2 linked regions of the Homo sapiens genome follow. The protein of the gene in region 2 purifies or fractionates together with the protein of the main gene of each other region. This does not show direct contact. Each region holds a gene or a part of one and is shown on either strand. Other genes may lie near its edges.

What was found.
Region 1: the proteins of DQX1 (region 2) and PSMG4 purify together in Homo sapiens (affinity purification with mass spectrometry; 2 studies listed by BioGRID and IntAct, with this or other methods). This does not show direct contact.

What each region holds. Positions count from the first base shown.
Region 1 is NC_000006.12:3,261,768-3,265,343, forward strand, and holds part of PSMG4 (proteasome assembly chaperone 4), read left to right. Parts: intron 1-1,916; coding exon 1,917-1,992; coding exon of another isoform or gene 1,993-2,057; exon of another isoform or gene 2,058-2,406; coding exon of another isoform or gene 2,407-2,558; exon of another isoform or gene 2,559-3,576. UniProt on the Homo sapiens protein: Chaperone protein which promotes assembly of the 20S proteasome.
Region 2 is NC_000002.12:74,517,550-74,520,625, reverse strand, and holds the end of DQX1 (ATP-dependent RNA helicase homolog DQX1), read left to right. Parts: intron 1-591; coding exon 592-711; intron 712-879; coding exon 880-1,070; intron 1,071-1,395; coding exon 1,396-1,586; intron 1,587-2,023; coding exon 2,024-2,180; 3' UTR 2,181-2,495; downstream 2,496-3,076. UniProt on the Homo sapiens protein: Might be involved in RNA metabolism; it is missing helicase motif III and may not have helicase activity.

The sequences.
Region 1 (3,576 bases), on a different chromosome or scaffold from region 2:
TCCACCTGTGACCCGTGGGCCAGCCCTCCATCTACCGTCCATGCAGGTAGACTCTGTGGAGCTCTTGTACCTTGGTGGCAGGGCTGAGCAGTTGTAATAGAGACTTTGTAATCCATAAAGCCTGAACTAGTTACTATCTGGTCCCTCTCAGGAATTTTGCCAGCCCACACGTGGAGAATGGCACCAGACGGTCTGTGAGGTCTCTTCCCTCCAGCTTCCCTAAACTCCCACATGTGAGACTGTAGAGAACAGACACCATGCAACCCGGAGCTGGCTGACCTTGGGTTGAGCAGGGATTTTTGGTGCCCAGAGAGGCTGCAGGACTAGTGACACTGAGTCCTACCAGCTTGAGGGAAGCTGGCCTGGGACCTGGGCCCGTGCCTGCTCAGGGATTCTTGGACCCCCCGCCCGGCCTCTAGGAGTGGAAGGTGGTGCTTCAGCTGCAGCAGAACTCCCTGGGCATCTGCTGGGAGACCACAGTCCTAGTGTGATGTCGGAAGTAATGAACTATTAAGGGTGACACGATGGGGCTTTACATTTAACTTTTGGTAGAAAAAGGCCACCCTGGGTAAGGTAGATTTTCTTTTTTCTAGAAGGTTTAACTGTACATACTATTACCATGCAGCTAAATGTTGAACTTGAGGAATCTGTAAACAGCAGGCTCATTAAGATATTTTTGTATCGTTTTTAGTGAAGAAGCATACAGTAAATGCTTTCATTCTTCTCCTGTGTTTTTTGATCTCCTGCCTTTTATTGTCTTTTGTGGAAGTGGCTTTGAACCTTTAGGAGATGAGCAGCGCCTGTGGTCTCTGCCCTGCCATACTGTCTGGCACACAGTAGCTGTTTGTTCAGTTAACTTGTCCCCACCAGGACAGTTGGGGTGGCAGGGGAACCAAACCCCAAAGTCTCTGTACCTCTAAAAACCTTGCCACTTTCCAAGATTCTCAGACCTCTGTAGCCAGGCTGCTTCTCCTAGAAATCTGCTATTTTGATAAAAGCAATTTTGGCCATATTACCAATAAGTGTTTTTTTTTTCCCCCTTTGGAAGCTAGACCTTCTTACTTTATTTTTTTATTATTATTTTTAATAAAAATGTAGAGACAGATCTTACTTCATTGTCCAGGCTGGTCTCAAACTCCTGGTCTCAAGCAGTCCTCCCTCCACAGGCTCCCAAAGTGCTGGGATTCTGGGACTAGCTAGACATTGTTAATGGTGAGAGATTACTCCCAAAGTAGTTGGGAGCAGTTACTCCCACATCGCCGGAGGGCCCATTTGTTGATCTGAGAATCATTTGTACTGCTTGTTTCACCTTACTGCTTCTTGTCTGAAATGAGGTTGGCCAAGCATGTTCAGAAGTTATTTTCCCTATTTAGATGCTGGTGGCTGGTGCCCTTTGTATCAAAGTCACAAGGCACTCGCTGACCCTGAGGAGCCCACAGGGGCTGGAGCAGCATGCTCCCTCACAGGCTGAGATGAGGAGATTAGGCATCCTGCCTCTGAGCCAGCTGCTGTGGGGCACGAGGCACCAGTGCACAGGTGCCCCGACTGTGAGTCACTTTCTTCTTGCTGTAGCCTTAATGATCTTGTTTGCTTCCCTTTTGGTTGTGGTGTTGCCCTTCAGCATGCTTTGGAGTTTGAGACACTAAAACGAGCCTTTCGTGTGAAACTGGTCCTAGAACTTAGTAGCACTGTGGTTCCAGCTTCATCTTTCCCAACTCCGCTGACCTCATATGCGACATGGGGTCCACCTACTTGGTTGTTGACGGACGCCACCCCTCTTTCCCTCGGCACCTGTGCCTGTCCTCTCTGAACCTGCCACTGCCATCGTCGTGAAGAATCAGAAGCCCGGAAGCCAGAAGTGTGGCTGGCCTGCGGGGGGTGGAGAAGCTGCAGTGTGCCCTTTGCTTTTCTTTTAGGACTCCATCCCCGTGTCTACCTCCCTCCTTGGAGACACTTCCGACACGACCTCTACTGGCCTTGCCCAGCGCCTAGGTATGTACCCACAGCTGGCGCTGCATGGCCAGCCAGGTGGGGCCCACTCTTTAATGGAACCATGAAGCAAGTCCCTTCGGAAGTAAAGCATCTTTATGCTAAGAACCATCACCTCATTGCTGCTGGGAAGCACAGACCTTTGCACGTTGGGTCTTATTTAAGGGGCACATTCCATGCTCGCCTGTCATCACCACCGTCCCAGGGCTGGCCTGTTCCCAAAGGACTCCCACCTCGTCCTTGGGTGTGTCCTTGAGTCCATGAGCTGATTTAGTTGCCTTCCGTAAGTGCATCACCACCTCCTGGGAGGAGAGCATGAGAAGTGCCCACAGCCCCTGTGGGTGGTGGCTCAAGGTAGCCTCCCGGGCCTTAGGAGGAGTCAGTGCAGCTGGTGGAGCAGGTGTCACCTCTGTGCAGGAAGGACTGTCCTCACTCAGTGTGATACCGTTCAGGGCTCGGAGGGAAGACTGGCCTGGCCTGTGAGTGTGGCGTAGAGTGGGGATTAAGCAAAGGTCATGAGGCTGAATGCTCCACTCTTCCCACACCCCAACACACTTCCTGTGGGCCAGGTAAGGCTTCCATGTGCTCTGCGACCCCCAGCCCCAGTGCCTGTGGCCAGTGTGCACAGGATGCCTGTCTCCTGCCCAGGCCTGGCGTTCTCCAGTAGGCCCAGCTGCTTCTGCTCTGGAGTCTTCTCTGTGTCTCAGGCACAGGACCTGGTACCTGACAAGCAGGAACCTCTGTGTCAGTCACACTGAGGCAAATGCACACGAATAGCATGGCACCTGGCCCAGGGGGAAGGCAGGGCAGGGTGGAGTGTCACCAGCAGGCCCATGACAGTATGTGGATAGGACAGAGGTCAGGGAGGGCACAGGTCAGCATTTCAGGAACTCGCAGTATTCTTTTTCCCTCCCTTGGAGGTGGGGACCTGACTTGTAAGTTAATTTGGTAATTTTTAACTAGGAAGTAAATTTAAAATTTACAGAAAAGTTGCAAAGAAGATAGAATTCCTGCTTAGCTTTTGCCCCAATTTCCCACTTGCCACCCTTCCCTCTTTGTGTTTGTATCTTTTTTTTTCTGAGCCACATGAAAGTAAAGCTGCCTTTTGTGTCTGTGTCACTCTGTGTGTGTGACTGTGTAAGGGGTAGCACACTTACATGGAACAGGTTACTGCGTGTGGGAGAAGGCTCAGGAAGGTATTCATATTTATACAGACGGAAAGCTGGGTGGGGTTGCGGACACACTCCCATAGAGAAGGTGGTGTGAGCTTGTCTGGCAGGCCGTGAATAACTTTCATATCAATAAGGTAAATTAGTCTCCAGAATATTTGCGAGATGGAGGCCTAGTATCTATATGCAAAAAAGAGGGGTTCTCAGTATCTCGACTGTCTCAACAAGTCACGGGTGTGCCGTGGCTTCCGGCGTCTCTTAAGGGAATGGTGCTGCAGAGCTCGGACCAAGAAGGTTTTCCAGCAAAGTCCCATGCTTTGCCAGTTGCCTTGAGCCTGGGTCTGGGCCCTCAAGTTGAAAATGCACTATAATGAAAAGGGAGAGGTGTCCTGAATCAGTATCTTATATGAGAGATGAA
Region 2 (3,076 bases):
AAGACAGTTCCTTTCCTCAGTACTCCAGCCTCTCATGACCTTACCTATACCTACCTCTCCAGCTTTATCTCCTGCCATTCTGCCACGTCATTTCATTCCCTCCACCCATACCAGATGGCTTGCAGTTCCCCAAATATGCTATATTATTAACTTACGTGCCATGCTGTTGCCACAGTCTAAAACATACTCCCTGCCCCGTCTCCACTCGGCTAATTCCTACTCAAATTTCAAATACTAGCCCAAGGGTCCTCATCGTTTTCTCTTACATCACTCACATCCTCACCACCTAAAGCCTGGATTAGGTATCCTCCTCTTTGTTTCCACAGTACCATATACAAACACCTATCATGCTTATCAAGTCTGCTTACCTGTTGGTCTCTCCCACCAGACTTGAAGCTCCTTGATGGCAGAGACTGTATTTCATTTACTTATCCTCAATGTTTAATAAAGTGCATAGCACCTAGAAGTTATCTATGTCTTTTGAATAAAGTTCCCAAAGGGACACTTCTGCCTTTTCAGCATTCTACCTGTACTACTATCCCTTCCCATTTCCCAAATGGCAGATTCTACCTTCCACTCTTCTGCCTCCAGCTGCCCCTGGGTTTACCCGTCCTCCACTCAGTGCAGAAGAAGCTGCCCTGCGTCGGGCCCTGGAACACACGGATGGTGACCACAGTTCTCTGATCCAGGTGTATGAAGCCTTTATACAAAGTGAGTTCTGCATCCTTTTATAGAATCCCAGATTTTCCAAAGAGGGGAAATTTTATGCAGCCAGCTGACAGATCTCTATGCTCAGAAAGAGGAGGCCCTTTGGCTAAGGGTTGGGTTATTTCAGGGGTCTCAAGGACTTTAGTTTAGCTGGTCCCTTTCCTCTCCTAGGTGGAGCAGATGAGGCTTGGTGCCAGGCTCGAGGTCTGAATTGGGCAGCATTGTGCCAAGCCCATAAACTTCGGGGAGAACTCCTAGAACTCATGCAACGAATTGAACTTCCCTTGTCCCTACCAGCCTTTGGCTCTGAGCAGAATCGCAGAGACCTTCAGAAAGCACTGGTGTCAGGATACTTTCTCAAGGTTAGAGGAAAGGGTGGGGGTGAGGGTGATCAAAGGAGCAAAAGGCAAAGAGAACAAATATTGGTAAGCCACTTTGAAATCAGGGTCCAGGTGGCCATTCAAAAGATTCTTTAGAACCAGAAAGGACTTTTCCCTTGAGGATTTGAGGTACAAGGGGCTATGGTAAATGCCATGAGGTATAGTAGAGACCAGACAACACCTAGAGGTAATGCTTTACTTTTCATGCTCTCATCACCCTTACTCTTTCTCAATCCCCTTTTATTTTTTTCTACTGCCTGCCTCTTCCCTTTTATTTATTCCGTCAATATTTCTGCCTTTCAATAAGGTGGCCAGAGACACAGACGGGACTGGAAATTACCTTCTCCTAACCCATAAGCATGTGGCCCAGCTCTCCTCATACTGCTGCTACCGAAGCCGCAGAGCTCCTGCCAGACCCCCACCATGGGTGCTCTACCACAATTTCACCATATCCAAAGACAACTGCCTTTCCATTGTTTCTGAGATTCAACCACAGATGTGAGTTCCCTGACATCCCTCCTATACTGCCTATTCCTCTCCCTGGGGCCAAAATTATGGCTGGGGAGTTAGAGAGACAGAGGAAGGGATCTTAGTGGTTAGTAAAAACATGATCTGAGGAGACAGGATTTGTGGAAGGGCTGGTGAGAAGTTTAAAAGTCTGCATTATAAGAGAAGATGCACTTTTGGAGACCTAGGCAGGAGGAGTCCTTGAGGCTAGGAGTTTGAAACCACCCTGTAGTCCCAGCTACTTGGGAGATTGAGGTGGGAGGATTACTTGAGTCTAAGGCTAAGGATTACGGGAGTCTAAGGCTACAGTGAGTTATGATCATGCCACTGAACTCCAGCCCAGGTAACAGAGCGAGACCCTGTCTCTAAAAAGAGAGAGACAGAGAGAGAGAAGATGCAGATCATCTAATTATGACTCTCTCTATTAGGCTGGTGGAATTGGCCCCTCCATACTTCCTGAGTAACTTGCCTCCCAGTGAGAGCAGAGACCTTCTGAACCAGCTAAGGGAAGGAATGGCAGATTCTACAGCAGGGAGCAAATCATCCTCAGCCCAGGAGTTCAGAGATCCCTGTGTCCTGCAGTGACCTGCCTGCCTATGGAATGGAGCTGGGTTCATCTCATCACATTAGATTATCCCTCAGGGTGACACCAAAGCACCCAGACAGATTTAGAAGCCCAAAGTTTAGGGTCAAATGTAAACCCTGGAACCTGAGTCCCAAGAAATGGTAGACTGGGAATGGAAAGAATGGGGTAAACCACAGTCTACATAGGGAAGGACTCTTTCCTTAGCCTTCTCTTATTGATTGGAGAGGGACTGACATGCTCCTCATTCTCTTAACTTTGCCAAACCCATTCTTGTACTCCCTTGTGATCTATAAAAGATTTTTCTATGATGCCAAGTTTTAGTTTGGTCCTGCAGTGCCATATACAACATCCATAAATCAGTGATGATATTACAGTAAATAACCAGGGCCAGCTCCTCCAACTATATAGTCTCTAGCCTCTTCCCATCTCCAATCAGGCCTTCATGCTATGATCGACATAGTTGTCACTAGCACAGACATGAGTTGTCTGGCTACAGTTGGTCTCTAGCCTGGCCTCTCTTCCCTCTGTCACAGTGCACCAGCCTCCAGGGGACAAAGGATGGGGGTGCTAGAGGAATCAGACAAATTCTTCCCTTTCTTCCTCATACAGCTTAAATCCAATTCCTTTTTAAACCTTAAGGCTAATGCAACCATCCCCTAACTAGACTTTCTATTAACAAGCTTCCCAGCAGCCCAGACACACCCACAAGGGGAAGTCTTTCTAACAACTTCAGAGACATCATGCTTTCCTTTCTTTCTTCCTAGGTTCTCCTTCCTTCCCTTCCCCTTTTGTGCCCTCGGAATTTTTTTTTTTTTTTTTTTTTAGACGGAGTCTCGCTCTGTCACCCAGGCTGGAGTGCAGCGGTGCAATCTCAGCTCACTGCAACCTCCACCTC